4 separate regions of the Homo sapiens genome follow, and regions 1, 3 and 4 are each linked to region 2. Evidence: fine-mapped expression QTL. A gene starts in region 2. Each other region holds a variant in brackets. All regions are shown on one strand. Distances are from middle to middle. Region 1 overlaps SASH1 (SAM and SH3 domain containing 1). Region 2 holds the start of SASH1 (SAM and SH3 domain containing 1). Region 3 has its middle 140 kb from the start of SASH1. Region 4 overlaps SASH1 (SAM and SH3 domain containing 1).

What was found.
Region 1: its variant is fine-mapped to the expression of SASH1 in breast (GTEx, PIP 0.96). The same link has a PIP of 0.9 or more in subcutaneous fat.
Region 3: its variant is fine-mapped to the expression of SASH1 in whole blood (INTERVAL, PIP 0.92).
Region 4: its variant is fine-mapped to the expression of SASH1 in whole blood (TOPMed, PIP above 0.99). The same link has a PIP of 0.9 or more in blood mononuclear cells and monocytes.

The regions. Positions count from the first base shown.
Region 1 is chr6:148,503,472-148,511,579 of GRCh38, forward strand. All of the region lies in intron 8 of SASH1 (SAM and SH3 domain containing 1), which reads left to right. Among named protein-coding and RNA genes, the nearest start is that of SASH1, 160 kb to the left of the region's middle. The variant G/A (reference allele first, on the strand shown) is at 4,544.
Region 2 is chr6:148,339,069-148,347,176 of GRCh38, forward strand. It overlaps SASH1 (SAM and SH3 domain containing 1), which reads left to right and starts at 3,770. Exons shown (of 20, transcript NM_015278.5): 1 at 3,770-4,155. The coding sequence starts at 4,000. RefSeq lists enhancers at 2,417-2,996, 7,845-8,108.
Region 3 is chr6:148,202,433-148,210,540 of GRCh38, forward strand. It overlaps a transcript of SASH1 not described here. Among named protein-coding and RNA genes, the nearest start is that of SASH1, 140 kb to the right of the region's middle. The variant C/T (reference allele first, on the strand shown) is at 3,230.
Region 4 is chr6:148,376,694-148,384,801 of GRCh38, forward strand. All of the region lies in intron 1 of SASH1 (SAM and SH3 domain containing 1), which reads left to right. Among named protein-coding and RNA genes, the nearest start is that of SASH1, 38 kb to the left of the region's middle. The variant A/C (reference allele first, on the strand shown) is at 5,015.

The sequences.
Region 1 (8,108 bases), 160 kb after region 2:
TTAATACATTGTATTGTATTGACTATTTCTTGACATGCGAAAATATTCAAAACATACAGCTTTAAAAAATGGGCTATGAAACAGTGTGGCTACGGTGCACACCAGGGGCCTGGGGTTTCTCTAAAGGAAAATCTTTTGAGGCAGCCGTGACCCAGAGAAGGTCCCCACTTACAGGCAAATGTGTTATTTCTACTTAGACTGTGCGTGTGCATTTGAGGGAGGATTTGGGGACACTGATAGTGACTAGAGGAGTTGGAGGAGGTAAAGATCAAAGATAACCCTTTCTTGTAAAAAAAAAAAAAAGAAACATACAGAAACATCAGGGTGTATTTTGTGTGTGCATGTGCATATGTGTGTGTATGGGGAAAAAGTGGGAAGGCATAAACCAAAATATTACCAAGTTTTCTGAGTATGGGATGATACGTCATTTCTCTTACTACTTTGTGCATTTTTGCATTCTCCAAATTTTTAATAATATATGTCATGTGTAGTCAGAAACAATAAATGCTACTAACATACAGATGTGGAAATGAATATGGTCATGTACATTGTCTGCATGACAGTTAGTGATGGGCTAGGGAATCTAGCAATGCCAATATATGTGTGAAGTCCTTGGATAAAGTATCTTTAGTCTAAGGTAGATGAGGAGCAAAGCCAGGAGAGCTTTCCAGAGGAGGCAATATGCAGACTGAAACTTGAAGGATGCATAGGAGTTAGGGGTGTGGATGCAATCAGCAGAGCTGTTTGCAGAAGATGAGCCATCAGGGCAGTGATGGGCATGGGGTGTTTGAGATGCTGCAAGGAAGCAGGGGGTGAGACCGGGTGCTCTGGTGCCCTTTCTACCACGTGGTATCTGAAGAGTGGAGCACAATGTACCAGAAACTGAATCTGACCGCACACAGTCACATATTCCACTATAAGGCCTTTGGACCTTGTTCCAAGGAGCTAATGAGGACCAATTCCTCACCATAGGAGTCAAATACTGAAGTCCCTTCTCAGCAAATTTGCACATCTACTGTGTTCAAGCCCGCCACCCAGAGAACAGGACCAGCAGTGGCCTTCCCTCACAAAGTCTATCTCCCAATCTGTCCCTCACCAGGGAGCTTCCTAGGGTGGCCTGGCTCAGTCTAGTCTTCCAAATATCCCCCAGTTTACTCTGACACATGGCCAGGGCTGAGAGCCACAGGGCTGGGGAGTCTCAACTTCTTCATTCCACAGTGATCGCACCAGTATTTATGGGTGGGCACTAGGAATGCAAGGAGCAGGAGATCAGACAAGGCTCCTGGCCCGGGGAGCCTCCTGTTTTCTGAAAGTCAAGCCATGGTACGTCCTCACAAAGGGCCCAACATCGAGTATCTTGATAAATACCTGAATGACTCCCTGAGAGGCGTGGCAGTGAGGTTAAAAAGGGGTGGACAAGGTCGGCTCTCTCTCCCATCCTCTTAGGACACTCTCCAAGTCCTGTGCTGTGAGGAGAGGCCGCTCAGGGGAAGTACTGGGGATGTATCCTTCCCGCCACCCTCCCCAAAGTATCTGGATAAATCAGTGCATGAACTTCATGTGTATTTCACATGGAACGAGGGCTTCCTTACCTGCCAAGCTCTAGACTTCACATTCAAGGTCTCATTTTATCCTCTAGAGAGCCCTAGGAGGCTTCTCACTGCCTATCTTAGAAATGAGAGAAGAAACATGCCCACAGCCACAGGCTCTTCCCATGTGGCACAGAGGGGATCTGAACCTGCATTGGCTCAGAGTCTTCTCTATATCTGAACAGCCTGTCCAGAACCAGCCTCAGATGCTGGCCATATGACAAGCTTTCACACGTAAAAAGGTTGTTGGTTTTTTCTGTTTTTGTTTTTTGAGATGGAGTCTTGCTCTGTCACCCAGGCTGGAGTGCAGTGGCACGATTTCGGCTCAGTGCAGCCACTGCCTCCCAGGTTCAAGCGATTCTTGTGTCTCAGCCTCCTGAGTAGCTGGGATTACAGATGTGCACTATGCCTGACTAATTTTTGTATTTTTAGTAGAGACCATGTTTCACCATGTTGGCCAGGCTGGTCTTGAACTCCTGGCCTCAAGTGATCTGCCTGCCTTGGCCTCCCAAAGTGCTGGGATTACAGGCATGAGCCACTGTGCCTGGCTGGTTGTTGGGTTTTTTTGTTGTTGTTTTTTTTTTTCTTTTTTCTTTTTGGAGATAGAGTGTCGCTCTGTCACCCAGGCGTGCAGTGGCATGATCTCAGCTCACTGCAACCTCTGCCTCCCAGGTTCAAGCAATTCTCCTGCTTCAGCCCCCTGGGTAGCTGGGATTACAGGCATGTGCCACCACACATGGCTAATTTCTGTATTTTTAGTAGAGACGGGGTTTCACCATGTTGTTCAGGCTGGTCTCGAACTCCTGACCTCGTGATCCGCCCACCTTGGCTTCCCAAAGTGCTGGGATTACAGGTGTGAGCCACCGCGCCCAGCTAATTTCTGTATTTTTAGTAGAGACGGGGTTTCACTGTGTTAGCCAGGATGGTCTCGATCTCCTGAGCTCGTGATCTGCCCACCTCGGCCTCCCAAAGTGCTGGGATTACAGGCGTGAGCCACCACGCCCGGCCTGGTTGTTGGGTTTTTAAGTGGTCTTTGCTATTTACACAGCACCTAAAAGAACAGTTTGTGAAAATTAGGTGTTATTTGAACTCCAGTGAGTTATGAATAGAAGACTGCAGAGTTAATAATAAGGCTGGGCTTGGTGGCTCACGCCTGTAGTCCCAGCACTTTGGGAGGCCAAGGCAGGCAGATCATCTGAGGTTAGGAGTTTTGAGACTAGCCTGGCCAACATGGTGAAACCCCATCTCTACTAAAAATACAAAAATTAGCTGGGCATACTGGCGGGTGCCTGTAATCCCAGCTACTTGGGAGACTGAGGCAGGAGGATTGCTTGAACCCGGGAGGTGGAGGTTGCAGTGAGCTGAGACCAAGCCATTGTACTCCAGCCTGGGCAACAGAGCAAAACTCCATCTCAAATAATAATATTAATAGTAATAGTAAAAATATTAAGTCCTTATTGAACTCCAGTTCAGTAAGGATTTCAGGTACGCAGTATTTAATACAACCACAACGTAAGAAAAGTGCTACTATACCACATTTATGTGCAGGAATATTAAGACCCATAAAAGTAAAGTGATTTGCTAGAGAACTTGGTAATTAAACCCAGGTTTTTCTAACCCCTGAGACCTTGGGCTAATCCTCTTCCCTTTACCCCAGTCTCACTGGGGCACTCTCATTTTCTTCGTTTTTATCCTGTAACGAAGGAATTTGGTGGAAAATGTCTACACTCAGTTTTAAGGAACTGTGAGCATAACTTTGCAGCATAGTTGTCAGTCTTGGATGAAGAAAGGTCTTGTTGAGGTAGGGTAGTGGCACAGGAGCAAAACCATACAGTCTCAGATTCTGCCCCTGCCATTGCTGTGAAATGGGGTCTGTATGCAAATGTTTAGCACAGTGCCTGGGAATGCTAAGCTTTGGACAAATACAAGTGTTGGAAGTACAACATCGCAAAAGCACCTGGTCCGTCAGATGGTGGCAGGGGAAGGGGAGTTTGTGGGAGAATCAGTTTGTGAAATGGGGAATTGGGCAGTGTAGGGAAGGTGTGGTGAACCCTTGCAGGAGAAAGAAGAGGAAATTCAATAAAGGTTGGGAGGAGATACTTCTGAGCAGAAGACAGAGTGGGAGAAGGGAGTTTAATTCTTGGCAAGGAGTGAGAGACGCCAGCCCGCCCAGGGAAGAAGAGCAGGACAAGAGCCGAGGAAAAGGGGATGGAGCTCTGGTGATCTGATGCAGAACCCGCAATGTGTGCGTGGTAAAACATGACCCTCCACTTGGGAGCTTCGTATTCCAATTCCCTTTTGTTGTTGTTGTTGTTGTTGTTGTTGTTTGAGATGGAGTCTCGCTCTGTCGCCCAAGCTGGAGTGCAGTCAGGCGATCTTGGCTCACTGCAGCCTCTGCCTCCCGGACTCAATTTATCCTCCTATCCCAGCCTCCTGAGTAGCTGGGATTACCGGTGTATGCCACCACGCCTGACTAAGTTTTGTAGTTTTAGTAGAGACGGGTTTTCACCATGTTTCCCAGGCTGGTCTCGAACTCCTGGCCTCAAGTGATCTGCCCGCCTCCGTTGGAATTACAGGCGTGAGCCACTGTGCCTGGCCGTTTTTAGTTTAGGTAACCTCTGAATCCTGTCCAACTCTAAACTTCTGCCATTTTAAGGAGGGACAGTGGTTCCTACGCATCCCTGAGTCCTGTGTAGCTAGGTATTTTATGTCGTGTGATGTCCTATAAAGAGCATTATACATGAAGACTCACCCAACAGGAGGGACATCTAGAAACAAGCAACTCACATTGTGCTGTGAGAATAAATGACTTACCCAAGTGAATGAACTTAGCCCTGAAAAGACAAACGTGACTTGCAGCCCACGTCATGGAGACTTTGTGTGGGTTTTTAGTCCTGTGTTGTTTAGATGATGTTCTTTTTAAGTAACAGCATGTGCCTAGTGGCTCCCCTGAG[G/A]TCCTTGAGAAAATTAAATAATCATCTTGTGACACGGTCCTCATGCTCACGTTTCTAGAATGCAGGAGAACTCGGATGCTCTGAAATGGGCATTAAAACAATTTGTTAAGAGAGCTTTAGAAGCACCAATGAAGGGGAAATATCCTACATTTACCCTGGTTGTTAAAATTTTAAAAAGGAATGGGGAGAGAGAGAGAAAGTGACAACTCTAGGAGAAAACCACAATCATAAGTTTTAATTCAGTAATTTCAAAAATAGCCATTGGAAGGTGTCTATTTTCAATTGAGACTGCTCCCTTAAGGGGGTGTTCAGAAGAATGTCTGAAAAAGAGATCTTTTTTTAAGTTCAGTCACTTTTAAGGGTTAGTCCTTGTCCTCCTTGTCCTGGATTTGCTCAGATTCTCGCGTTCTTTTTTCTGTCTCTGGAATTCCATAGACAGTAATTAAGGAACTGGAGGCCAGCAGGAGGTCAGGGAGCCTTCCTCAGTGAAAACAGGGATTGTTGGCCATGCACAACACTCCCTTTTTTCCTTGTGGTGAATAGGAGATTTGCTTAGAGCTGATGACTTATGCCTTTCTTGCGAGTTATGCAGTTAGCAAGCGACTGGGGAATCAGTCAGCAAGCAGAAAGAAGCTAATTGAATCCAGTGTCTTCCCCTTTCTCCTTCGGATACTGAGCTGTGACGGTGGAGCCTGCCTGATCATGTAACTCCAGAGAGACATGTTCCAGGAGTGCCTAATCTTAATTTTGAGATTGCGGAGTTTGATGCTACAAGAGTGAAGACGCTCTCCGAGTGGGGAGGGGGGTGGGAGGTACAGGACGTCTTCAGAATTACCCCTTAGGCTTGCTAAATGCCGAAGCCGGTAAGTCACTGAATGCGTTCAATGGGAAAGAAAGAATGTGTTTTCTGTTGCTTCAAGTAAAAGTTTTTGCTGCTCCTGCCTATGATGTTTCTCTCTCTTTTCTTCTTAAATTCCTCTAGATTTGTCCTTCTTCGCCTGTTTACTTCCCTACCTGGTAACCCTGAGCATTTTTGCCTGGCATTTTCACCAGTGAAAATGCGTAACTTTTAGAGAATAGTGAGTATTGTTTTGAGAATTTGAGACAATGAGCATATATGGCTCAGCTGTGAATTGTGGAGGCTTTTCCTGGGGAGGACTTGAATTCAGACAGTGTTGCACATTGCTTTTCATAAGCTTATATCTGATTGGCTTCCTTCTCTTAAGTTTAAGATTAACGCTGTGACACAGCCGACCTAGAAAGCTGAAGTATGTATGTCTAATCATGCGCTAGGTTAGAGAGACCAGTGTGTGAATTTCACAGGCAAGTACATTTCCAGTTTCAAATTGCTTTTCAGAAATGTTTAAATATCTCTCGGTGTTACGTGGCGCTGGGGGAGATGAGTGGGCTTAGTCTGGGTGTTAATTGTGACAGCGTGTCGTGTGTTTCGAGCTAGGGAAACAAGCTGAGTGAAAGTGCTTCTGCAGAGGGCACAGTTGTAATCCTGTGATCAGCGTGGTGGTCTCAAGCGGTCCTCCAAAGGGTCTAGTTGCTCCTTGCAAATTGGTTTTAACCTTTATTACAGCATATTGCCATTGTGCTTGCACAACTGTGCCATATGGCTTTTGGAAAGGATTTGTTCTGCACACTGCAGTCCCAAGAACTGTTTGTTACAGGGTCCGGTGAAGTATCTGTTACCGACCAGCAGTGACAGGTTTACTTGGAGCAGGGAGAGGATGCATTTAGTGAGCTCCGGCACACAAATGTTTGTACTCACAGATGCTATTCATTTTGTTCCTTTTTTCTGATCATCCAGCGTGTAGCTGTGTTATAAAAAGTTCTCCACGCTGGCTCCATGTCTTTCCTATTAGAACATTGCAGATGTGTCAAGGATGCACTTGTTCCAAAAGAAGCTGGGAAGGAAGGAGGCTCCACCCTCCTCCGGGTGCCAGACGGGCCCCATAGGTTCCTCATTCAGTGGCCTGGCCGGCAAATGGTGTGCTATCTCTTTAAAGCAGCTATAGTTTTGTGTCTTGGCTTGGTCAATTTGTTATGGTTTAAAACTGTGGAGCCAGCTGTCTGCAATCTGATGTAATGTTGCTATGGAAACCAGAAATGAAACACTTAAGCATTCACCACAGAATTACTACATATAGCATTAGCCAAAGTAATTAAAAGTTGAGCCATATGGGCTTTCTGCTGGAAAAAAATCTGCAGAGGAGAGGCTGGAAATCAAATGTTTCTGTTTACAATATTGGAAATCCACTTTTCCACAATTTTTGGTGGGATAAGTTGCCTTTTTCTCTTGAAGGTTTTCTGGTGAGGAGCTGTCATACAGATGATTGAGTTCACCTTCTCACTGAGAAGATGATCTGTTTAACTCTGACCCAGGGTGGGACAAGGGAGGGGAGGCCACACTATCTCATGTTTGAATGTGTGTGAATATATACTTTTATTTTTTAACTTTAGTTTAAAACCTGTTCTATAACAGTGCTGAACCTATTTCTTAGAATCAGTCATTTATTTTATATACAATGCAGATTTCCTCTATCTTCTACGAAGTTTTTCACATAGGAAGATTTCTTTTAAAATATACATAGTATTTGAATTTAAAAATTATATATTTTTTATGTTTATAAATATAAAAATTCTCAAGCCCCCATCCCTGGTGGTGTATTTCCTGAATAAAAAGACATGCTGGCCAGCCATGGTGGTTCATGCCTGTAATCCCAGCACTTTGAGAGGCTGAGGCGGGCAGATTACCTGAGAGTCAGGAGTTCAAGACCAGCCTGGCCAACATGGCGAAATGCCATCTCTACAAAAATACAAAAATTAGCTGGGTATGGTGGTGTGTGCCTGTAATCCCAGCTACTCGGGAGGCTGAGGCTGGAGAATCGCTTGAACTCAGGACGCAGAGGTTGCAGTGAGCTGAGATCGCACCACTGCACCCCAGCCTGGGAGACAGAGCGAGACTCCATCTCAAAAAAAAAAAAAAAAAAGAAAGACATGCTGTGTTATTTTCAGCATTTGGGAAGTGGAATATACTTAAAAAGAGAAATATGACATGAGGAATTCAAGATTTACTCTCCAGTTTAGAAGAAATGCAAGCCTTTTACAGCGTTTTTGTGTTAAAACAGCTGGAGAGAATTTTTTAAAGGCAAATATTTCACAACGCTTTTTTCCTCTGGACTCAGTAGGAAGTGAGAAGTCAACACCTCTCCATCAATATCATGGATGCAGCAATACATTCTTGGGATAGGTTGTTGAACTCAAGTAACTTCTAGGCTGACTTCTAGGTTAATTTTCTATTACACACACACACACACACACACACACACACACACACACACACACACACACCTTGGATGACCTGGATTTTATATTGCATTTTTCTTCGTATAAATTGTGCCGCATCTATCTTGTCTAGCGTCCAAAAAATGATCATGGAAAAGAAGGACTTGGTTGCCATGGTTTGTGATTTGTCAGTGACAAACACCTCCAAATCTTGATTTTTCTAGAAAAATAAAAATAGCATTAATTCAAAGGTACAAAGAAGTATAATTCA
Region 2 (8,108 bases):
GGAGTGACAAGTGACATTAACTAAGAGAGAAAAGAGTCGTCAATCTTGGGAGTGGTAATCAGATCATGTTGAGTTAACACATGGAAATTGATAAGTAGAAAGTAGCTGGGACTACAGGCCACATGCTGCCATGCCCAGCTAATTTTTGTATTTCTAGTAGAGACGAGGTTTCACCATGTTGGCCAGGATGGTCTCAAACTGCTGACCTCAGATGATCCTTCTGCCTCGGCCTCCCAAAGTGCTGGGATTACAGGAATGAGTAACCATGCCTGGCCTCAAATTTCACATTCTATGTATAGGCATCAACATTTCTCCCAAAACATTATCTCATTTCCCTATCCATTGATTAAGAAGCACCAGGAAAAACAGCTTAAATATCTAGAATAGGTTGATTTCTATAAGTGCCAAAATGCTGGCTAAGGTTTAATTATATGTGTGTGTATATATATAGATATATAATTATAAATATAGATATCTATATAAATATCTATATAGATGTATTTTTTGAGATGGAGTCTCGCTCTGTCGTCCAGGCTGAGTGCAGTGGCTCACTGCAACCTCCACTTCCCAGGTTTAAGCGATTCTCCTGTCTCAGCCTCCCAAGTAGCTGGGACTACAGGTGTGTGCCACCATGCCTGGCTAAGTTTTATATTTTTAGTAGAGATGGGGTTTTGTCATGTTGGCCAGGCTGGTCTCGAACTCCTGGCCTCAAGTGATGTGCCTGCCTCAGTCTCCCAAAGTGCTGAGATTACAGGCATGAGCCACCATGCCCGGCCCGTTTAATTACACTGATGCGGGTATGTGTTGTCACTAAACTGTACGTGTCTTTAGATGACCCTGAAACATACTATAACCTGTGAAGAAGCAGGTGGCCATTAGTATGGCCTTGCCTCATCTTGGATGGGGAAACTAGCACCAGGTCAAATGCTTTGCCCCAGGTCATCTGATGAGTCAAGAAGAAAATGATTCTGGATTGGTGCTGGAGAGTCAGGCTTCATCCTAACCCCAGCCCCAACTGCCCGGCTTGCCTGGCTCCTTGCTGAGTTATTTGCTGGAAAGTGTTTATGTAGAGAACAGGCTGCCCCTTGGAAGCAGCACAGTCCTCTGCATCTTCTTAAATTTAAGAAAGTACCAGGCCAGGCACGGTGGCTCATGCCTGTAATCCCAGCACTTTGGGAGGCTGAGGCGGGTGGATCATGAGGTCAGGAGTTCGAGACCAGCCTGACCAATATGGTGAAACCCCGTCTCTACTAAAAATACAAAAATTAGCCAGGCGTGGTGGTGCATGCCTGTAATCCCAGCTACTCAGGAGGCTGATGCAGGAGAATCGCTTGAACCTGGGAGGCAGAGGTTGCAGTGAACCAAGATGGTGCCACTGCACTCCAGCCTGGGCGACAGGGTGACAGAGCAAGACTCTGTCTCAAAAAAAAAAAAAAAAGTATCACGTGGTGAATAAATTCAAATTCTTAAATATACCAATACAGTCAACTGTAAAGGCTATTTATCTTTTCCTATCATTTACTTATATTTATCTATTTATAGAAATGACAATTAAAAAAACCTCATCAGCCTTAACTGAATTTATTTTTATTCAAAGTATCACAGAGCACGAGGGAGCCTTGAAAACCCATCTGGCCTAACTCCGGCATCAGCCTAGGAAAGCACAAGACCTGGCTGTACTGACTCATAGTTCAGTGCTCTTTCTACTTCAACACAATGCCTCAATGCTATTAAGGAGAAATTTAATAATTCTTTTGGTTTCCTTTCACAAACATTATCGTCAGAGACTGTGCGCAGTGGCTCATGCCTATAATCCCAGCACTTGAGGAGACCAAGGAGGGAGGATCCCTTGAGTCCAGGAGTTTGAGACCACCTTGGGCAACAGCAAGAGATCATGTCTCTATAAAAAATTTAAAAAATTAGTCTGGTGCAGCGGTGTGCCTGTAGTCCCTGCTACTCAGGTGGTTGAGGCAGGAGGATTGCTTGAGCCCAGGAGTTCAAGGCCGCAGTGAGCTACGATTGCAGCACTGCACTGCCGGGGTGAGAGAGCAGGACCTTGTCTCTAAAAAAATTTTTCAGCATACTTTTTTTTTCTTTGGAGACAGAGAGTCTTCCTCTGTCACCCAGGCTGGAGTGCAGCAGCAGGACCTCACTGTAACCTTCGCCTCCTGGGTTCAAGCTATTCTCCTGCCTCAGCCTCCTGAGTAGCTGGGATTACAGGCATGTTCCAACACTCTTGCTATGTTTTGTTTTTTTTTTTTGTTTTTTTTTTTTTTGTATTTTTAGTAGAGACAGGGTTTTGCTGTGTTGACCAGGCTGTTCTCAAAATCCTGGCCTCAAGTGATTCGCCCGCCTCAGCCTCCCAAAGTGCTGGGATTACAGGCGCCAGCCCCGCACCCGCCAAAAACACACAAAAATTATCAGGGATTGTGTTTATAAATTTAGTTACTTTTGAAAATGTTTTTACATTTTGAACTTTCCTGTAAGGACTATTCACCCATTGCATTGATTGGTGCTCACAGCACTTAATACTTGAACAAGGGGAATTCAAGGACATGCTCTTATCCCCTTTCAAGTGGACTCAGAAGGAAAACAAAACAAAACAAAACAAAACAAACAAACAAACAAAAAAAACCCCACAATCAACAAGAAACAGGAGAGGCCTCAAAACAAGCAGGGCTCTCTCCCTGGGGCATCTCACTTTTTTTTTTCCTTTTAAACCACAAGGCCCTAACAGAGGAGCAAACTCCATGTGGTTTCTTAACTGTTTCAAAAGTGATCAATCACCAAATCGAATGTGACGTGCATTGTCACCTTCCAAGGAAAACTCTGAGTAGTCTTGAAAGATAGAATCACAAAAGGGAAAAATCACCTCTCCAGGGCTAGTTCCCTTATAAAATAAATCTGTCCTGGGGCTTCCCCTTGGAAAAACACACACAGGGCCCCAAGTGTGTGTAGGCTGACTGGCTACACAATCATTTGAATTTAGTTTCGAAAATAGCCCTTCCCTGTGTCCCTAATGTAAAGGAATAATTAAAACCCAAAGCGCATTTCCCTTAATTAGCCGAAAGCCCTAGCAATGCATGGCATTGTGGGCATTCAGGAGCCAAAATGCCCCCACTCATAAAAAATGATCCAAACAATGGCTCGTGCCCAAGCTTTCACACTTGTTTTGCAGAGAAGTCTTGGCTGGCAGAGGCAGGATTTGTAATTCCTTGGGTCGCTTGACTTCACGAGGGGCGAGGTATGCATTGTAGCGACACGGACTACTTGTGAAGCCTTTGGGCGGGAGTCGCTTAAAGATTAACTTTCTCGGGTTTCCGTTACCAAAAGCGTTTCCGTGAATAGCGTGATTGGAAACTTGTGCGGGCCGGAGACCGCGGCGCGGCTGCTCTTTCAACAGGCGATTTGTTCTCCTGTCCGAGGCTCATTTCCATGCAAAGAGCCTGACATCAGAGCACCTTTTGTTGCTAAACGCTTTCTTTAGCCTCGAGGGAGAGAGTCATGTGGAGCTGGAAGAGCTCATTTTGAAGAGAGGGGTCCCGGGGAGCTCCCTCCAAGATCTAGAGGCTCCGCGGCCACCCCTGCCGGGTCCTGCCAAGACTTGCTAGAAGGAACGAGTCGCGTGCCTTAGTTAGTTGGTTCCCGTCACAGGAAGAAACGCCTTTGCAGTGGGTTTAATTGCTTCTGGGCCGAGCGAATTCCCCGCCGTACAACTCAGTGGTGCGGACTTTGCCTCCTGCTACCCTGTTGCTGCGCCGAGCGGGGTGGGAAAGTTTCTGGAGTTGTCAGTCGCGCAGCCCGTGGCCACCTAGACCCGAGGTGCGGGCGCCTGCGAAGGGCCCCCGCGGGGTGGCCGGGGCCGCCGGGGCATGCAGCGCGGGGGCGCGGCTCGGTGACGCCGCGGGCGGGGACCCGGCATCCGGGCAGGCTGCGCGCGGGTGCGGGGCGAGGGCGCCGCGGGGACTGGGACGCACGGCCCGCGCGCGGGACACGGCCATGGAGGACGCGGGAGCAGCTGGCCCGGGGCCGGAGCCTGAGCCCGAGCCCGAGCCGGAGCCCGAGCCCGCGCCGGAGCCGGAACCGGAGCCCAAGCCGGGTGCTGGCACATCCGAGGCGTTCTCCCGACTCTGGACCGACGTGATGGGTATCCTGGTAAGTTACCTGGGGAGGGGGCGGCGCAGGAAGTACAGTTCGCAGCAGCCCCTCTGAAACCGGGGGCTCCCTTCTCGCCCACCCACTGGGCAACCCACTCCGCAGAGGCGTCCTTCTCTGGCTCTAGTTCTTAGGGGGCTAAATACACACAGTATAGGATTTCAAACCCTAATTAAAAAATAACCAGCCACAGGTCCCGTCAAAAGGTGTTTTTTAAACAATCGGGTATGATATTCAACAGTTTAATCTGGGACACCTGCTGACATGTTGGTGTGGAAAAGGCGAGAAAGAGGCCTTCAAAAAGTAGATGTAAATAAATATTTGGTTGGTGCTGGATTAGGGAAAAGGCTGATGTTACTGATGTTTATCTCTTCACCATTTGTTGTGTGACCACAAGAGGGAAAACAAACATTTCCTTACTCAGAACTGCCAAAATGTTTGCCTACTTTTTTTTGCAGTTTTTCAATTTGTGGAGTTACAGGATATTTGTTTTATATGTTTGGGGCTAAAACAATAGGACTTATTTTGCTAAATCTGTGCTGTCATGTATTTTGAAATGTCCAGTGACTAAAAGCGCCCCTGGATTTGGCATAGTCTCTGGGAAGCAGTTCTTCTGTATGGAGGGTGAAGTTTTAACCTGCTCAGGGTTGAATACCTTGGGGAAGTAATAGATTTGCTTTGGTGGAGCTGTAGTTAGGCAGGTAGACTGGAATCAGATGGGCGAGGTTTATTACAGTCAGACATCTTAATCCATACATAAAAGACAACTTTAGTTTAAAGACTTGGAATGGCCAGATGTGCAGATTATCAGAAAAGTCTCTAGATTTGCTTTGAGATCTTATATTTTTTGAGTGGGAGGAGATGGAGTGAAAGTTCTTCTTTGGGAATGATAAACCGTGTACAGTTTTTAGCACAGTGATTAAACTCTTGGGCTTCAAAGTAAGTTATACTAGGTCAAATGCCAGCTCTCCAATTGACTGTTTACATGATCTTGGCCAAGTCATTCAACCTCTCTGATCCTCAGTTTCATCACCTGAAAATTGAAGAAAAGAAGACTTGCTTCTTGGGGTTTCTGAGATTTAGCTGGGTTGATGTGTGTATCAAGTACTCAGCAGACTGTATAGCATATAGTAGAGGCTCAATAAGTGTAGCTGTCTTTCAGGTTTTATTTGTTTCCTGCAAAGTCTCCTGTCTCTTCCTTCTGGACATCCTAAAAGCCCAGTTACTCCATTTTCAGGTGACCATTGGTATTTATGATTCTTACTATACAGAGAACCAGCGAGCGTTGGTTAAAGATTTCTATCTGCTCTTGTCACTCTCCAGTATTGAAAAATGTATATAAATATGCATGCAATGTATATTTACATACTATATATAGCACATGTATATAATATACCTAAATCTAATATATATTTTAGATTTAAAAGGTTTTGTTTTTGCATTTTCTGAAGTATACAGATGAATATGATCCTTCACTGAAGTTCCAGAAAACCTAATGGACATTTTAAAGTTGTGATAAACTTTTTCTTTTCTTTTTTTTTTTTTTTTTTGAGACGAAGTCTTGCTCCGTCGCCCAGGCTGGGGTGCAGTGGCACGAGCTCAGCTCACTGCAACCTCCGCCTCCTGAGTTCAAGCAATTTTCCTGCCTCAGCCTCCTGAGTAGCTGGGATTACAGGCGCGCAACACCACACCCGGCTGATTTTTGTATTTTTAGTAGAGACGGGGTTTCACCATGTTAGCCAGGCTGGTCTCGAACTCCTGACCTTGTGATCTGCCCACCTCGGCCTCCCAAAGTGCTGGGATTACAGGCGTGAGCCACCGCGCCCGATAGACTGTTTTTAAGTTATCCTGTTATTTCTTGTCTAGATCCAGTTCTAAGTTTTCAGTCACTGAGGAAATTGGTTTGATAATATCCCATTGTATCCCTTACTCTAGGGCGTTGGGCTGGGGGCGGGGAGGATTGGGGGCCTGTTTAAATGAAACTTGGGCTGAGGGTTCTTTTGGGGAAGAGGGTTGGCCAGTGGCATTTTCTGCAGATTTGCTTTCCCTTCCCTGACAGATTCCAGCACTGTTGGGTCAGTTGTAGTGGAGTGTTCTTTGGCTGAGTTAAAAGATGGGGTGGGGCTTCAGAAGCTCAAACCTGCTATTGAAAGGGCAGATGCAGGAGCAAAGAAAATATGTACTTCAGCTAATCATTCAGGATCAGGCTGGGAAGAACGTAAAGCCTGTCCCAGACAGGTTGTGTTTGCTCATGTTTTCCTCTTGTTTATCTGGGGTAAACAGGCATGGAGATTGTTCCTTAGTAAAATTCAGAGGAAGACATGGCTTACTGCTCCTTTGTAGATGTCTTGCAGGGAGACACCAGGCTAAAAGGGAGGGAAAGCTGTCATCCAAGTGTTTATACAAACTGAGTCTTCGGGGAAATACATCAAGACACAAAATTAACAGTTGACTTTATTCTCACTGAAACAAGAGACACCATTTCCTTCCTTTTTTATTTAAAATATAAGATTTTGCAATCATCTATCAATCTAGACAGGTGAAGTGACTTGGCCAATGGCACATACCATGTTAGTGACAATGTTAGACTTGTCCCTGGTCGCTGGCCCCTCCAGTAGGGATCCTGATGTCATGACGCTCCATAGTTAACTCTCAGATGAATTCAGTAGAAATGTAGTTCAGTACATTTAGAAATCCTGTGTGTTTTAGGTAAAATGTGACTTACAAGATTCTTTTTCCGTACTGAACTTGAAGAGGACAGTAGAGGTAGTTGGGAAATTACACATCTGAACATTATCCTTAACAGATTTCAGACACAGTTCTACCTTACTTTTTCAGATTATTCTAATTGTGGAAATCAAACCACACAGCTTATCAATACTGTATGTGGAACTTTGAAATGACAAAACTCACAGCTTAGTAAGTGAAAACATTTTTAGGTGAATGAGCAATATTGAGCAGTTGTCCCCCAGGGGATTTTGTTGGTTATAACCCAGTGAAAGTATTGCCCCAGAGTCATGGATCTCAGTAAATACAGGATGGTTGTTTGAGTTCATTAGGACACATTTTGCATTTAGATTAATTCAGTCCATGCACAGTTAAGCACCAAATAGTTGCTTTCAGATAATTGTTAACAAAGTGCTCATTTAGAAAAGAAATAATAGTATAATTTACGGCATGAAAATGTTTGAGCAGTACTAGAATAAATAAATGCTAATAAGTGAATATATAAATGGATATAGAATTAAGAGAAAACAAGCTTGCAAAAAAAAAAAAAAATTAACTAGATTGTGAGTGCCTGGAGGGCAGGGTCAGTGTCTTACTCATTTTTCTATCTCCAGTGCTCCTGACTTAACTGGGTGCTGAGAACATGGCTTTGTTGAAAGAAAAAGGGGAAAAGTATGTATTTCTTAAATGCAGGAGTCACATCAAAGCATTGTTCTGTCAAGACACATGTGCCTGCTGTAATGTAATGGGTTACATTTATAAAGATGTGAATACATTCTGCTCTGGCTGAAACTGCATTTTGGGCAGTTTCATCGTGCAAATTAAAATCCCAGTGCTTCCACTGGAAACTAATGGTAAACTGCAACATGTTTATAAGCCCTGAGCTATTAAACCTTGGCGTTCTTGTGAAATGTGCCATTCTGTTCACTAACACCACGACATGTGGTAGGCCAGGGTTTTCAAAGCATGTCACTTCTCCCTGTGACATGTGTAGACTTCTATTGAGAAGTGCAAAACTGAGTTAGAATCCTGTGGAATTTTACCCTTTTTTCTTTACTCCATAGTTGGCAGACACGGCATTCCTTTTTTTAGGTAGGGGAGGGAAGTTGTTTTTAAGAGCGGGAATTGCTAAGGTTGTTGATACAGTTAGGTGTGGTAGATCCTTTTTTCAGAACTGATTTATCCATTTGGTAAATTGTGATGGTTCTTCAGCTTCTGCCTACAGG
Region 3 (8,108 bases), 140 kb before region 2:
ACCCCAGGTCTGCCCTCCCTGAGCCCTGGTGGGCTGGTCTACCCTGCTAGGAGACAGGAGGGCTGCCGGGAGGCTGGAAAACTAGGCAAGAAGTCTTGGAAGGCAATGACCAAGGCTTAGCAGGAAGAGAGATAAAGAAGGAGGGTTTAGGATTGATTACAAAATGTCTGGCACCAAGAGTGGAAGATTCTTGTGAAGAAAAGCTTATTATAGGAATTTCTGGGGAAAGAAAGAATATAAGGTGAGGAGCAGTGGCTCATGCCTATAATCCCAGCACTTTGGGAGGCCGAGGCAGGCAGATCACCTGAGTCAGGAGTTCCAGACCAGCCTGGCCAACGTGGCGAAATTCTGTCTCTACTAAAAATACAAGAACTAGGCAGGCATGGTGGCATGTGCCTGTAATCTCAGCTACTCAGGAGGCTGAGGCACAAGAATCGCTTGAACCCGGTAGGCAGAGGTTGCAGTGAGCAGAGATTGTGCCATTACACTCCAGCCTATGCAACAGAGCAAGGCTGTGTCAAAAAAAAAACAAAAACAAAAAACAGAAAAGAAAGAATATAGAAAAATTGAAATGACAGCAAGAAGTAACAAGACCAAATTAAGAAAAATTTAGAAATGGGAAATCTGGATACATTGTTATGAGAACTATATTGACTTGACTGTGATGGACTCTTTGTCCTTGAAACATTCCAAATAAAATCAGAGAAAGAGCTGGAAGTATGCTTCAGAAGAATCTTTCACTGATGTGTCTAAATGGCCTGATTCCATCTTTTCCATCTTTGCCTTCTAGTTTTGGTCACCAGGTATTTGGCATTATAATTCCCAGGCCAACACACTGCTGTCACCATTATGAGAATTCTGGGGTGGAGGGACAGTGATTTTCCCCTTCCTTACCTCGTGTCTTCATTCACTCTCTTCCTCTTCCTTCTTTTCCATCCTCCCGTCTTCTCTCCCTCCCTTCCTTTCTGTTTCTCCTTTATCACATTAAATGCAGCTGACTACAAATAAGGAAAGGAAAACTTGGGGAACGCTGTGGTGTGGGTTTCTTCCAATAATAACCTTGGCAGGTAATTTTTGCATATACAGACTGAGTCATTTTCTTATAACTGAGATCAGGGGCTGGATTTCTCCCAGGAGAAAAAACACTTATATTAACGTGTTTATGTTTTGGAATAATAATATTTGTCCATGTGAAAATATGTGTGAGTCCTTTCTGCCACACCATCTGGCGTATAACTATTCATAATCCAAACAGTAGCAGCTGCTGCAGAGCACGAGGATGAGTTTTCTTGAAGTAAAAATGGGCTAACTATTGGATGCCACACGTAGCTTTCACAGCATCACCGGTTACTCACCAGAAACCTACATAGCAGTCCCTTCCATTAATCCATTAGGTTCTTTATTAATATCACAAAAGCTCACTTTGCTATCTTCTTCCATTCCATCCAGTAGAGAAACTCTATCGTTTAACCTTACTCTCAACCTGTGGCCCTTGTACCTTGGGAACATGCATGTGTTTTACCCAAAACTGTTGGCAACTGAAGGTGTCAGTTTGGGTTTTGTTGACTGATGACAGCTGCCAGAAAAATTGCCGGGAATTTTTGCTGCAGTTCTCCACTGCGGCTTCCTACACTGCTGAACCACATTCATTATGTGTTTGTGGCTAATCAGACACATGGGGACACAGCAGCAGTTGATGAATCCCTCTCGGGCCGCTCGGCAAGGCTCTGATGTAATGGAAAGTGTAGGGTAACGCTTTCTACAGATCATTTGAATGCGGTTTGCAGAAACCCTTGAGGTTTAAGAAGGAAGTGGTTTGCGGAATAGGTGCTGGATGCTACTGTATAGAAACCACCACAATCGACAGTACAAAAGAGACCAATTTCACAGGGGAGAATTATCTGCAAGACTTTTTTCATTGCATAGTCATTCTGAGTCTCCCCCAAAAGTTGGAGGTTTTTGAAAGATAAAATTCTTGGCTGGGTGCAGTGGCTCACATCTGTAATCCCAGCACTTTGGGAGGCCAAGACAGGCAGATCTCCTGAGGTCAGGAGTTCAAGACCAGCCTGGCCAATGTAGTGAAACCCCATTTCTACTAAAAATACAAAAATTAGCCAGGCATGGTGGCAGGCACCTGTAATCCTAGCTACTCAGGAGGCTGAGGTAGGAGAATCGCTTGAACCCAGGAGGTGGAGGTTGCAGTGAGCCAAGAACATGCCATTGCACTCCAGACTGGGCAACGAGAGTGAAACTGCTTCTCAAAAACAAAAATACAAACAAAAAAAACTGTTTATGCTGATTCTACACATCACTATAGTAAGTATCCAGACCATTTAGTAAAAAAAAAAAGTCCTAACCGAATGCCCCAAAACTTGTGCCCCAAATGAAAGTATATAAAATTGCTTTAATTTTCAACACTTCAGTTGGTTGAATCATAATAATACCTTACATTTGCATGAGCTATCATGGTCCTCAGGGTGTTTTCACATATGTTTTTAGTAATTAAGACTTTTTTCCGAGAAGGCTGTCAGGTGACCCACATCAATGAGCATTCAGGAGATTGGGGTATTATCTCTGTCCAGCGTGCTTTGTCCTGTTCTCCTCACAATGGGTATCGCTAATTTCCAACTTGTATCAGTCATCTTCAAGCAGTCATTTGTCTTTTCAGATGTCTATTGGTCAGTCCTTTAAGTACCTGCTGCTTTTATCACCAGTTATAATGGGGCGATTTATCAATGTCATTCGCCTCGCTCGGCAACAAGAGAGCAACTATGAGATCTTATAGAAGTGGTCCGCATACCTGGCCTTTAACCACTCTCCTTCGACTTGAAATGGTTCTTATACCTCTGTCGTCCCAGAACTTGTCAAGAGGTCTCGGGTCAGCCTTAACTGGGCCTTGCGCTTGGTTGCCCATCAGCCTTTGCCTTCAGGGTGCATTAGATAATTTTTTCATAAACTTCTTTTTTCCAAAAGCAATATCTGCCAGCATTCCCAAGTCCCTTTTTGTATTTAGGGGTTGCATTATGTGTGTCTCTGGTTCTCACTTCTGTGTTTCTTATCATCATAATTGGCCTGACTCAGGCCAAGTAGGTGTTTGTCTCTATACCCCTATAATGTCAGTGCTAAGTAGTCCTAATAGGTCTTCCTAATAGAGGATGCCCTAAATCCTGCCCTTCCCAACCTTGCCTTTCCCTAGTCCCCAGAAGAACTTCACCTTGAAGACTCAGCT[C/T]TGACCACCACTCCCCAATCAATTCTGACCAACAGGTAGTCATCACAAAAGTGGAGACTAATCCAACTATCCTAACCCTGCTGTCTGGTGGGCCTGGACTGAACCCTGGGCACCCTGTCTGCTGACCTGCCCTGAGCCTGTGCCATACTTAGCAGATAAGCACACATGGAGCATTGCTCTCTGATTGTACTGATGCCCTCCTGCTCAAATCCAGCATCTCCACCCCTACCCACTGTGGGTGCAGCTGAGCGAGCTCTATCCTTTTGCATTCCATTGCCTCAGAGGTTCCTTCCCGGTTTGCCTAGGAATAGGCTGCCTTATGATTTTCATGGGCTTTAGGCACTTTTGCCTTCAAGAACCCCTTCCTCTGTAAAAATATATATATAGAAAGTTGCACTTTACAAATGTCAGCATAAAGATAAATAATTAAAAGATTTTCTTTGCCATTTATTTTTTTCCTGACTTAATCTATTAAAGAGAAAATGTATTAATACATTTTCATGGGCCCTTGCTGTATTGTCATTAACCTACTAAGCCTAGAAACATGCCAGCTGTCAGTGCTATGCCTAGAGCACCTGATGGAGAAGTCAGCCCCACCTAGAAACATACCTTCATAATGGATCTTGTTGCCTTAAATCAGGGTTTCTCAAAGCTCAGTCTTTTGCAAATCATATGAAACTTTATCCCATATTGCATTTCACTAGTACTAGTTTTCATCTAATATTTTTCTTCAAATTTACTTCCTTTGAAATTTTGATAGCTGTATATTTAAGAAATGTAATGTCACTAGCATAAAGCCAATATAACTTGCCATAAATAGAAAATTTACATTAATACAAATTAACAGGCCAGGTGCAGTGGCTCACGCCTGTAATCCCAGCACTTTAGGAGGCCAAGGCAGGTGGACCACCCGAAGTCAGGAGTTTGAGACCAACCTGGCCAACATGGTGAAACCCCATCTCTACTAAAAATACAAAAATTTGCCAGGGGTGATGGTAGGTGCCTGAAATACCAGCTACTCAGGAGGCTGAGACAGGAGAATCGCTTAAACCTGGGAGGTGGAGGTTGCAGTGAGCCAAGACCGTGCCACTCCACTCCAGCCTAAGCAACAGAGTGAGACTCCATCTCAAAGCACACACACACACACACACACACACACACACACACACAAATTAACATAAATACATTATGCATTAAAAAACATTCAGCTTGTTCATGTTCCACCCAGCTCCAGGCATTTTGCTGTCCTCAGCCTTGTCCTCTAGTGTTCCCTGTGGAGTTAATAATTGGGTCAATCCCTAGCACAAATGTGCCCCCTCTGTTCAAAGTTTTTTATTTGCTCACTGTCTACCCACTGACACCCGGCCCCTCTCCAGGCTACTGCTCCAAAATGGATGAGCCAACCAGACCTTCCCAACCAAATTAAGCATTGGCAAAGCATCCCATTACATTGGGTTTTCCTGGGAACAGCACTATCTGTCCCACCCTGATTTTCCATGTCCTCCAGAGCAGCACTGTCCCCTGGCCCCTCCCATGCTGATGGAAATGTCCAGTCTCTGCATTTGCCAGCGCAGTATACCCAATAGGAGCAGTAACTACTGAGCATTTGTAATGTGCCAGTGTGACTTAGGAACTAAATTCTTCCTTTTATTTCATTTTAAATCATTTAAATGTAAACTCTATAGACTCATGTGGCTAGTGGCTACCACACTGAACGGGGCAGCTCTGGATGCTGTGAGTTAGACTGATGACTGTCCTCTTAGTTTCTAGATCTCCATCCCGAACAGTTCTAAAATTATTTCCCTTTCCCTCAGTTCTATTATGCCACACAGCCAAGCTTATTAGTGAAATGATGATACTTAAGCTGTTATTAGTTGTTTACACTTTAGTGTGAAAGAAGGCCCTGGGAGGAGGTATGACAGAAGGACACACAAAGAGAATACGGGAGCCCCATGTGCTGCCTTGAGATGTTGGGATGGCGCAGACACAGACAGAATGAAGAGATGGATTCATTTGCCCCTGCTTTTCAGTTATGCAAGAATACCCAACATCTAAACTGTATTAATATTTTATTTCCTGAACATTCTCCTCTTTGTCCCTTTTAAAACATTTGTGAGTCAGAGTCAAGATTCAGGTTCAGTGTAAGCCGTCTGCTCAGTCATTTGTCATTTACCTGCTAAGCTCAGAAACTGTGCTTGAGCTGGCTTGAGTCCCCAGACTTTAGTATTCAAGTCTGTGAATCTGATGGTATTGAATTAAATTCATGACAAAACCTGGCGCTCTCTCATCAGTCCAGTGAGGCCTCAGAGACCATGACTGCATTTAAGCAGACCTTTAAGGATCACAGCAATGGCACACATTTGTGGAGCACACACGTGGATGACCACCCATCCATTCCTGCCCCACCTCTTCCTGCTTCCTCATCAGCTGAGCCCCCGTTTGGTGTGGTGCCCAGCCTCTTCTGGGAGACCATAAGCTCAGGACGGCAACATGATATGGAGCTCGCGAGATGGGTTGGTAAAACTGATTAAGCCAATCATGGAATTTCTCTTCTCTAGCCACTTAATGATTTTGGAAGAGGAACATGACCTAATGCTGGCCAGTGCGATGCTAAGGGAAGTCTACTAAAGGACTATTCGGAAAACATTCCTACTGATAAAAAGAGATGCATAGGACATGATCCTTCTCCCTCCATTGGCATTGTTGGGTTCACAATGAAGTCAGAAACTACAGCAGCCATTTGTCACCCTTGAAGTACAGGCACGACCTCTGGATGGTGGACAGGAAGAGGGGACAGGGTCCTTAACAGCATAGCAGAACTGTTATTGTGAAATAATAAACCTCCTAGGAGGTTAAGCCATTTTGGATTTTTCTTTGCTTAGCAGCTGACATCATTATTATTGATAAAAGTGTAATAAATCATGGCATTTCTGTTGCGTCTCACTTGACTTAAACTTTTGCTTCCCTGCCCCCAGAAAATGAACAGGGGATAGGTTTAGCTTTTTCTTGTTTTGTGAATTGGAGAAACTGTCTTTTCTGACACTGTTTGTTATTTTACTTCTGGAATGCCTTTCTATATAAATCAAATAGGCCAAACTTTGCCTATTTCTTCATCTTTGACATGGGAATAAAGGACCAAACAACTACTCTTTCAACTATATAGAAACTGACTGAATACGGTTACTAATAAGAATAAATCCTAAATGACAAATTCTAAATAGCAGTAATAAGATGTGGCCATTTGCTATAATACCTTTAATTACAAATATAAAATACCGTTTTATTTGCATCTTTAAAAATAAGGCCTTTTTCTGCTGGGCATCGATATTGAACACTTATTTAGTAGGCACAATTCTACTTCCATTGTGCAAAAGGCACAAATAGTAGCTTTCGCCCCAAAGCAAAAACCCTTCAGGGAATCTGTCTCCACTAATGCATGTATTGATACACATGCATATTTCCCATTAATACTAATAGAACTTAATGTGCCTTTATAAATCACCTGAATTTTGATTCAGTGTGAATCTGATGCCAGATGATTCAAGATGAAATGACAAAATATATTTGTCTGGCAGCTATTCCGTAATACACCTTCATCATAGCTGAATTCCTGTCCTGTGACTGAAATATTAATCAAAAGCTGTTTCTTCTTGCTCTCATCTCCCACATACTGCCTCTTGCCATCAGAAGAGATGAAGCAGACTCATCTATGTGACTGCGTACCTCTACTCAGGCAAAATTTAACGTTCTATTGAATAAAATAAAGAGGGAATGAACAGAGAAGAGAAATTCATAGGGGTTTTTCTTCTTGTGGGAAGAAGTATGTGGGGCTTGGTTAAATCAAGTGTACATCTGTTCTTGAGTCCTGGAAGAAATGCTGGGCCACACAGGCCAAGTGTGAGCAATTTACACATCTTTATTCCCCTCTTTGTCCTCACCCGTTGTCAGCTGTACCAAGCATCTTACCTCTCTATATCTCAAGCCTCCGGAATAACAGATTTTGTATCCAGCATCCATGTACTCTCTGGGAGAAATGCATTTTAGCACCTCTCAGAATGGTGAAGGGCTCCTCAACCCGTATGCCTCCCCTCTTTCAAGCTTGGCTGTTCCGGTTGCATCTAACTTCAGCTTCTTTTCCTCTCTGATCTTTCCCCTGTCTTACTAGGATTCTAGTCATAGTGATCACTCTTGGAGACTGTCTTTGGTTTTACTCTGTTATAGGCAAAAAAGAAAGAGTGTGCTCTAAGACAAATGAAACACATACACACAGTGTATTTTTTTTCCCCAATGTGTCTTCCAGAGATAGCAAAATTAAACATCAGACAGAAAGGAAAACATAGATTGTAAGCAAAAGCCCTACATAATTTTCGTTTATGGCTTGACCACATATTGAAATTATGAAACATCAGCACTGAAAAGGGCCTTTGGCAGTATATTACAGTAATGCTCCACCCAAGAGCTATGACTTTTCACAGTGGCCAAGCCAACTGTGTCACCAGGATGTTTCACACAACGTGGTAAAGACTGCTGATGCCCCTTTTACAGATAAAGGAACTGAGATTAATTGAAAATGCTGCAAAAACAGACCAGGCATGGTGGCTCACACCTGTAATTCCAGCACTTTGGGAGGCCAAGGTAGGCGGATTACCTGAGGTCAGGAGTTCAAGACCAGCCTGACTAACAACATGGGGAAACCCTGTCTCTACTAAAAAAATACAAAAACTAGCCGGACATGGTGGCACATGCCTATAATCCCAGCTACTTGGGAGGCTGAGGCAGGAGAATTGCTTGGACCCAGGAGGTGGAGGTTGCAGTGAGCCAAGATCGCGCCATTGCACTCCAGCCTGGGCAACAGAGCAAGACTCTGTCTCAAATAAAT
Region 4 (8,108 bases), 38 kb after region 2:
TCTCTACAAAAAATACAAAAAATTAGCTGGGCCTGGTGGCGTGACCTGTAGTCCCAGCTACTCGGGAGGCTGCCTTAGGAGGGAGGATCACTTGAGCCCAGGAATTCGAGGTTACAGTGAACGGTGGTTGCAGCACTGCATTCCAGCCTGGGTGACAGAATGAGATCCTGTTTTTAAAAACAAAAGATGAAACTCGGCCGGGCGCGGTGGCTCACGCCTGTAATCCCAGCACTTTGGGAGGCCGAGGCGGGCGGATCACGAGGTCAGGAGATCGAGACCATCCCGGCTAAAACGGTGAAACCCCGTCTCTACTAAAAATACAAAAAATTAGCCGGGCGTAGTGGCGGGCGCCTGTAGTCCCAGCTACTTGGGAGGCTGAGGCAGGAGAATGGCGTGAACCCGGGAGGCGGAGCTTGCAGTGAGCCGAGATCCCGCCACTGCACTCCAGCCTGGGCGACAGAGCGAGACTCCGTCTCAAAAAAAAAAAAAACAAAAAAAAAACAAAAAAAAAACAAAACAAACAAACAAACAAAAAAAAACACAAAAGATGAAACTCAAACCTGTGGAGGGAACCAGTGGCATTCCTCCTGGTCTCCCTGATGGTAGTAAAATGCTGAGGATTTTCTGGATAAGCTCCTTGTGTATTCAGTGCCCTTCTAGATGGGCTATCTTTATTTTAAAATCTTAGTTGCTTTTTTTCTGTCAGGATATGAGAAGATTGTGAGACTTTAATTAAGCCCATTGAACCCAGGAACTTTCCATTTATTCCTTTTGGTGTGGGAAATATCTTTGGATTCAGGAAGATCTTTGACTCTCAACATGTTAAAAATTATCAGCAATAAATGTAAATAATTAGAAATCAATAATTCCTGTACTCTGATTTAGGAGGCTTGGTTTCTTGTCTTTTGGGACAAGTCACTCAAAACCCTGTGGTCTTTGGTTACTCTTAATTCATCTTTGAAATAAAGTTATCAAATGAGATCATATTTAAGGCCCTTCCCTGTATTGAAATTCTAGATCTTTATTTTTATAATAGGTTGGAATTCTGTGCCACTCATGTGATATAACTTGGTCCCATCAAATAATAGGAGAAATTTTAACCTTCCTGTTGGAGGAGTGAGGACTTCTATTTCATGAGTGCTTATTGAATGCCAGATGATCTGTCAAGGGTTTACAAGTATTTTATTTAATCCTATTACAGCCTGTGGGGTAGCTTTGTAATTACCATTTTACAGATGAGGAAAATGAGGCCGTACACATTTAACTACCTTACTCTGGGTCAGTAAGTAGCAGAGAAAGAGAGAAGGGTTCAGATGCCAAACTTCCTGTTCCATTGACTGGAGTTCTCTGTCACCCACAATTTTTTTTTTTTTTTTTGACGGAGTTTTGCTCTTGTCACCCAGGCTGGAGTGCAGTGGCGCAATCTTGGCTCACTGCAACCTCAGCCTACCAGGTTCAAGAGATTCTCCTGCCTCAGCCTCCGGAGTAGCTGGGATTACAGGCATGCGCCACCATGCCTGGCTAATTTTTTTGTATTTTCAGTAAAGGCGGGGTTTCACCATGTTGGCCAGGCTAGTCTCAAACTCCCAACTTCAGGTGATCCACCCGCCTCAGCCTCCCAGAGTCCTGGGATTACAGGCATGAGCCACTGAGCCCGGCCACAATTTTTTTTTTTTTTTGAGACAGGGTCTCACTCTGTCGCCCAGGCTGGAGTGCAGTGGCACGATGTTGGCTCACTGCAGCCTCTGCCTCCCTGGCTTAATTGAACCTCCCACCTCAGCTTCCTGAGTAGCTGGGGCCGCAGGCGTGTGCCATCATGCCCCGCTAATTTTTATATATTTTTCTTGGTAGAACTGGGGTTTGACCACGATGCTCAGGTTGGTCTCAAACTCCTGGGCTCAAGTGATCCGCCTGCCTTAAAGTGCTGTGATTATCAGCGTGAGCCACCGTGCCTGGTTGATAATTCTTTCTCATGTAGGCCACCCTTATTCTGTGAAGCTTTTCTCTTCCTGTTGGGCTGTGGCCATACCTGTAAAGAGGAATAACATCCCAGTGGGTTTAGATCTTGTCTTCACTGTTCAGCCTCTTCCATGACAGAGGTGGGACTGGGTCTGCTGTCAAGGATCACAGAGGCAGACACCATGCTAATGGTTCACTTTATTGGTGTCAGCAGCATTAAGATTCACAGCTGGACAAAAATATAATGAAACAGAGCTGGCCAAGGGCTGGATGAGCTTCTAGGATTATATCCCCATTTGTTAGTTTGGTTTTTCTAGCTGGTGAGGGACAAGGCACTATCAATTCACAGGTGCCAACTGTATGTTCTGTTGAGAGGTTTTTGTGTGGGTGCAAAGTTAATGAAATCAGGGTCACAGTTTTCAAAATCTCTGTGGTTTGGTTTTCATTGAAGTGTATGACAGCGAGTTTCGTACTTTATTTAAAGCAAAGTGCATGCCCTCTATATTCCTGCTTAAATATCTATGGCTATTGAATTCATGAGGAATCACCAAACCTGGGTTTCTTCCTGTCTCTCCAGTCCCCTGTCCTGCCACACCTCTGCATTCTGACCTTTTAGTCACCCAGGGTAGCTTTACCTCTTGGAACATGTTAAGCTCTCTCTCTGGACTCAGAGGAATTACATTTGATATTCCCTCTGTATGGAACTTCTTCCTACCCCCTTCCCTCAGATCTTCGTTTGTTATTGTTTCTAATGATATATTTCATGTATCAATGTCTCATTAGACTGTATTACTCTTGTGAGGTCAGTAGGGACAAGAATCGTGACTAGAAGCTCACCATTATATATAAAAATGCTGGTTTAGCGGGCAGTCTGTCAATTCCTAGTTACCGAGTGAATTTTATGGCACTCTCAGGAAAGAGAGGGATCAACTTTACTGCCATCCATCCATCAATCCATCCATCCATCCATCCATCCATCTGTTCATTCATTTGATAAGTATTTATTACGTAACTGCTAAGTGTTGGGTGTTGCAATAATGTTAGATATTGAGGTTATAAAAATGAATAAGATCCATTCCCAGTTTTCATAAACTCTAAAGTTGCCTGGTAACAACAAACACGTAAACAAATAAGTCACCTTTTAAAAACTCCTTACAGTGGGAAATTTCAGATGTATACCAAGTGGGGAGCATATGTTAAAGAGCTGCCATGTTCCATCACCGCTGATCTTGTTCCATCTATATCTGCACTCACCACCCCTCCCAGGCCCAGGATTTTAAAGCAAGTCCTGGATATCGTGTGCAGCCATTTGTGAGATGCGGAACGTAGGTGCCACACAAAGAGTATTTTTCAGTTGTTACCTGTCAGTTCTTAAAAATGTGGAGTTTTGGCAATAGCACCAAGAAACAGTTGCTTCAACCTTAGCTGTATAAAAGCAGAGGGTTACCAGCGTCATGCCTGTTGTCAGTCAGTTTTGATTGAGTTGTCTGGACTCCTGCGTCTCACTTACCAGTTGCGCCGGGGAGCTGTGTGAGGAAATCAGCCAGAGTCAAGCTCAGTCTCATACCACAGACGGTCACACCGCGAGGCTCTCTAGTCAAGCTGTGGCAGATTATAATTTTTCTAAAACACAAAAACTCAAATATTGTACATCATTTAACCATAGTACTAGAAATTTCAGATTGTTCTGAGATCAATATTTTCATTTCTAAAATTCTGGTCATATCACATTCAGATCTTGTTGGTCAAATGCTTGAAAATGTTCACAGCCTCACGTTTGTGTGCCAAAAAGGCGGCCAGAGAAAACCCAGTGTGATTCATGCTCATCAAGATCTGTGAATGTGGTCTATAATTGTGACTTCATTCCCACCCAATTATCTGTGCTGCTTTTCAAATCTGTGATTCTGTTAAGCTCAGGGCAGATTAAAAATGGAAAATGAGTTCAGTCTAAAACTGCCATCTGCTAAATCCAAATGTCCATTTTGAGTCTGAATCTAGGCTTGTACTTTCTAAAAACCAATGATCAATGTTCCCATTCTTTTCTCCACATTTTCAAGTTCTTAGGGTTTTTGTGTAATACTCTTTTGAGCCACTGATAGCCAGCAGATTGGATTTTTCAGAGCCTTTCGTTCCAAAGAGATCTAATATTAAGCACACAGCTTAGTAAATCCCTTCAACAAGTTCTCATGACTTAACCGTATGACTGCATTAAAATAAACTAATGGCCACACTTTGCTCTTCTGTGCAGTAGAAATAAACATTCATGTTTTTTGATTTTATATTGGATACTTAATACCTAGCACAACACTCGGAATATAGTAGATGTTTAGTAAATATTATTTGAATTAATGAAATATCCTGTGAACTGTTGATGATTGAAGGGCATAAACACAGGCGAATGTTGACAGCTTTCCTCAGTTTCTTCATCATACGTGAAAATCACTGTGCTGTGCAGAGGTGCTAGCATATACTCCGCATGAGGGATGTGGAGTAGGCCTTCTTCGTCATCTCTTTTATTAGAGCTGCTCCTCTGCCTGGCCAGGAAACTGAGTTTGTTCATATTTAGACTAAACTTTTCAGATTTCTTCCCAGTAGGTAGTTGGGGATGACTAGTTCATGCATAAGATTTTGGTAATAACATTTTTGCTACCAGTCTCAAGCCTGCCGAATCCTAGGGTCAAGCAGGCTGCACTGGGCCTGTTGGAAGTAGAGGAGAGGGAAAGTGTTTCTGCCGCGACTTTAACTCTGTCCTACCACAGATGACATTTCCCCAAGGGAGCAGGGAGTGTAAGAAGAGAAAAATGCAGAGGACCTTGGGGAATCATTGCATGTAAGGGTGTGCTGAGGAGGAGGGGTGGATGGTGACAGGGAAACTCACAGGCAGTGGGGTTCTAAAATAGAGACAGTGTGGGCCCCCATGGCTGTTGCCTAGGAAGCGAACTCCATCAGTGCCTTTCTTGCTTTCTTTTTTTTTTTTTTTTTTTTTTTTTTGAGACAGAGTCTTGCTTTGCTGCCCAGGCTGGAGTGCAGTGGCGCAATAATCTTGGCTCACTGC[A/C]GCCTCTACCTCCTGGGCTCAAGTGATTCTCTCGCCTCAGCTTCCTGAGTAGCTGGGATTACAGGCATGCACCACCACGCCCAGCTAAGTTTTGTAATTTTTTTAGTAGAGATGAGGTTTCACCATTTTGGTTGGCCAGGCTGGTCTCAAACTCCTGACCTCAAGTGATTCACCCACCTCTGCCTCCCCAAAGTGCTGGAATTACAGGTGTGAGCCACTGTGCCCAGCCTCTTCTGTGCTCTTCTAATATGCTATGTGATATCCTTTAAACAAATGCAAGTCTCAAATGTTTAAATTTATCCAAAGACTCTGTGGGGGATTGTACTGCGTTCACCCTTTCTGGTATGGTTCTGGGTTAGCGACCTTTACAAAAGACACCTTGTGTGAGATTTGGGAGCTGGAAGTGAATCAGCAGCATATTTTTTTGACTCTGAAGGTTGGTGTAGGATGCCAGGCATTGTGGCAGCTTCCACATGGTGTCACTGATCTGCTGGCTTACCTTGCTGGCATGAGACAGCATCTGAACCCACAACAGCTCCAGAGCCCGCCAGATCTCCGCCTTCTGTGTCCTCGGCCATGTGTGCAGGTCCATTGTGAAGAGTGTGACGGTCTCGCTCTGTCACCCAGGCTGGAGTGCGATGGTGCCATCTTGGCTCACTGCAACCTCCGCCTCCTGGGTTCAAGTGATTCTCCAGCCTCAGCCTCCTGAGTAGCTGGGATTACAGGCACCCACCACCACGCCTGGCTAATTTTTGTATTTTTAGTAGAGACGGAGTTTCTCCATGTTGGTCAGGCTGGTCTCGAATTCCCGACCTCAGGTGATCCACCTGCCTTGGCCTTCCAAAGTGCTGGGATTACAGGCATGAGCCACCGTGCCTGGCCCCCCAATTTTTTTTCCTGCTATTTTTTTCCTTAGACATTTGGAGACCTAGAAGCAGGTGCTGAGAGAGCTCTGAGGAGGAGGGTTTGTCAATCCTGCCTTCTGGGAGGCCGTTTATTCTTCAGGAGGGGATCTGTGGTAACCGGGATCCACCTGTGCGCAATAGCATCACCATGACCGTATATGCCAAAGCCAGGATTTGACATGGGTGCTGGCAGGTTTTGGGTGTTTTTGGAGAGAGGGGATGGAAGGTATGAAATAAGCCTCACTCCAGCCACCTGCCCTATGGGTGTGCCCCTGGGGGCTTCACTTGCCATTTGCATGACCTAATACGTCCCTCTGGCATATGTCGTTACACGTTAAAACTTTTTCCTGAGACAAAGTATACTTCCAGCTCAACCCATCTGTAGAAACACTGGGAGTGATACCTCAGAAAAGTATTTGAGATTAGTTATTACAGTCAGTGAATGTCTGCAGAACGACGACGACGTGGCAGGAAGTGATGACAGAGCTGGTGAGAACAGTAACATTACAGGGATTCAATGAGGCCGAACAAGAAAACGAGAATTAAAGACATTTTTATGGTTGTAGCAATTTCACCTGAAAGGTTGCTAAAAGTGTTTATCACCTTAAAAATCTTTAAACAAGCTAATTAAGGGTGAAAACACCTTGGGAAGTCATTCAAAAAATCAGTTAGGTTTCATTGTACCATAGTGATTTCTTTTTTTAATGGATTTAGCTTAGAGGGGATGTATATATCTCCATCCATCCCTCTTCAAACAAGGAGCAATGTAAATATAACAGAATTTATGTTATATAAAAATATATGTACTTATTATTAAGGACGGAAAAGGTAAAGAAACAATAAAGGAGTCAGCAGTCTGTCTTTCTCTCAACTTTGGGGAGTTAGAGCAACACACATGAGTTTTCCCTTGGGGAAAACTTTATAGATACATAAAATAGGAGGATCACACATTCGTTTGCATACAATCTGCATGCAACAGATCACATTGTATCTCCTGATGTTTTCAGATGCTTTTTTTTCTTTTTATTTTTTTCCTCTCCTGAATCTGTCAACTTATTCTAAACTGGAAGTGACATCTGGGGAAAGAAGCGCAGAAATAACAAAAGTAACGATACAAATGCCTTTTGTTTTCCTAGTAGTTTTAGGTTTTCCATTTTCCAGAGACAGAAGTGAATTGGGATAAATCTCAGAAATACTGTGAAACCGATTGTTGAGGAAACAGTGCTCTGTGTCTTTTCTCCTTAATTGCAACAGCAGTCCACCCAATCTGAACTGCTCGGTACAATGCCCCTTATCTCTGTATTTTTATGTTGGTTGTATGAAAGACGGGTGTTTGGGACAAAGATGCTCTGTGGCTTTGGGGGAAGATTATACAAGTTTGTTGTCCGTTGAGCTGACACGGGTGATGACTCCACAGATTTAATTTAAATCTTCAGCAAGTGAAATGGATTGTCATACATATGGACAGATGCTGTGACCAGGTTCTATGAGAAGAAAAGGAAAGAGAACTTGAATCTGCATGTATCTCTTTTCCTGTTTTCAAAGACAGGGGTGGGAAAATTCTTATAAAAAGATCGCGTGACTCAAAATTTCACAATTTTCTCAAAAAATTATTTTGAGGAAATAACGTTTTCCCATGTTCCTAAACTTGAACTAATATTGCTTAAGTTTAATGCCAGAGAACCAAAGAGGGAAAATAAGAAAGAAGTGAAACAGATGAGGCAAGCAATAAACTCCAGACCAGAAACTTTTGAACACCTTAAAAGAAAAGGTTTAAAAAAGAATCCGTTTCAGTGTTTTAATCATGATATTTATTATAATAAATGTAGAGATGATTTTAAGTCTTATTATAGTTACAAGTTTATTTTGCAACATCAGTGCTTGACATTAGTATGGTGGGGTGTTGAGTCAGACGTAGATTTTGTGTTTCCGTAAAGATGGCAGCATGCGATCCTATGGAAACCTCATCTACATTATTTAAATTTCCTGCAGACTCATGTTGCAAGTATTTTTAGTAAAATTAAATATTTTTATGGAGTAGGTCTGTAGCTATCTCAAGGAATAAGCTGAATAAAAATAATGCAAACACTGTCAGTCCTGAAAGAGCATGGCTTTTTAAAAACTGCTTTATTGAGGTATGCTTGATAAGTGAAAAGCTGTGCATTTTGAATGTATACAATTCGATGAGT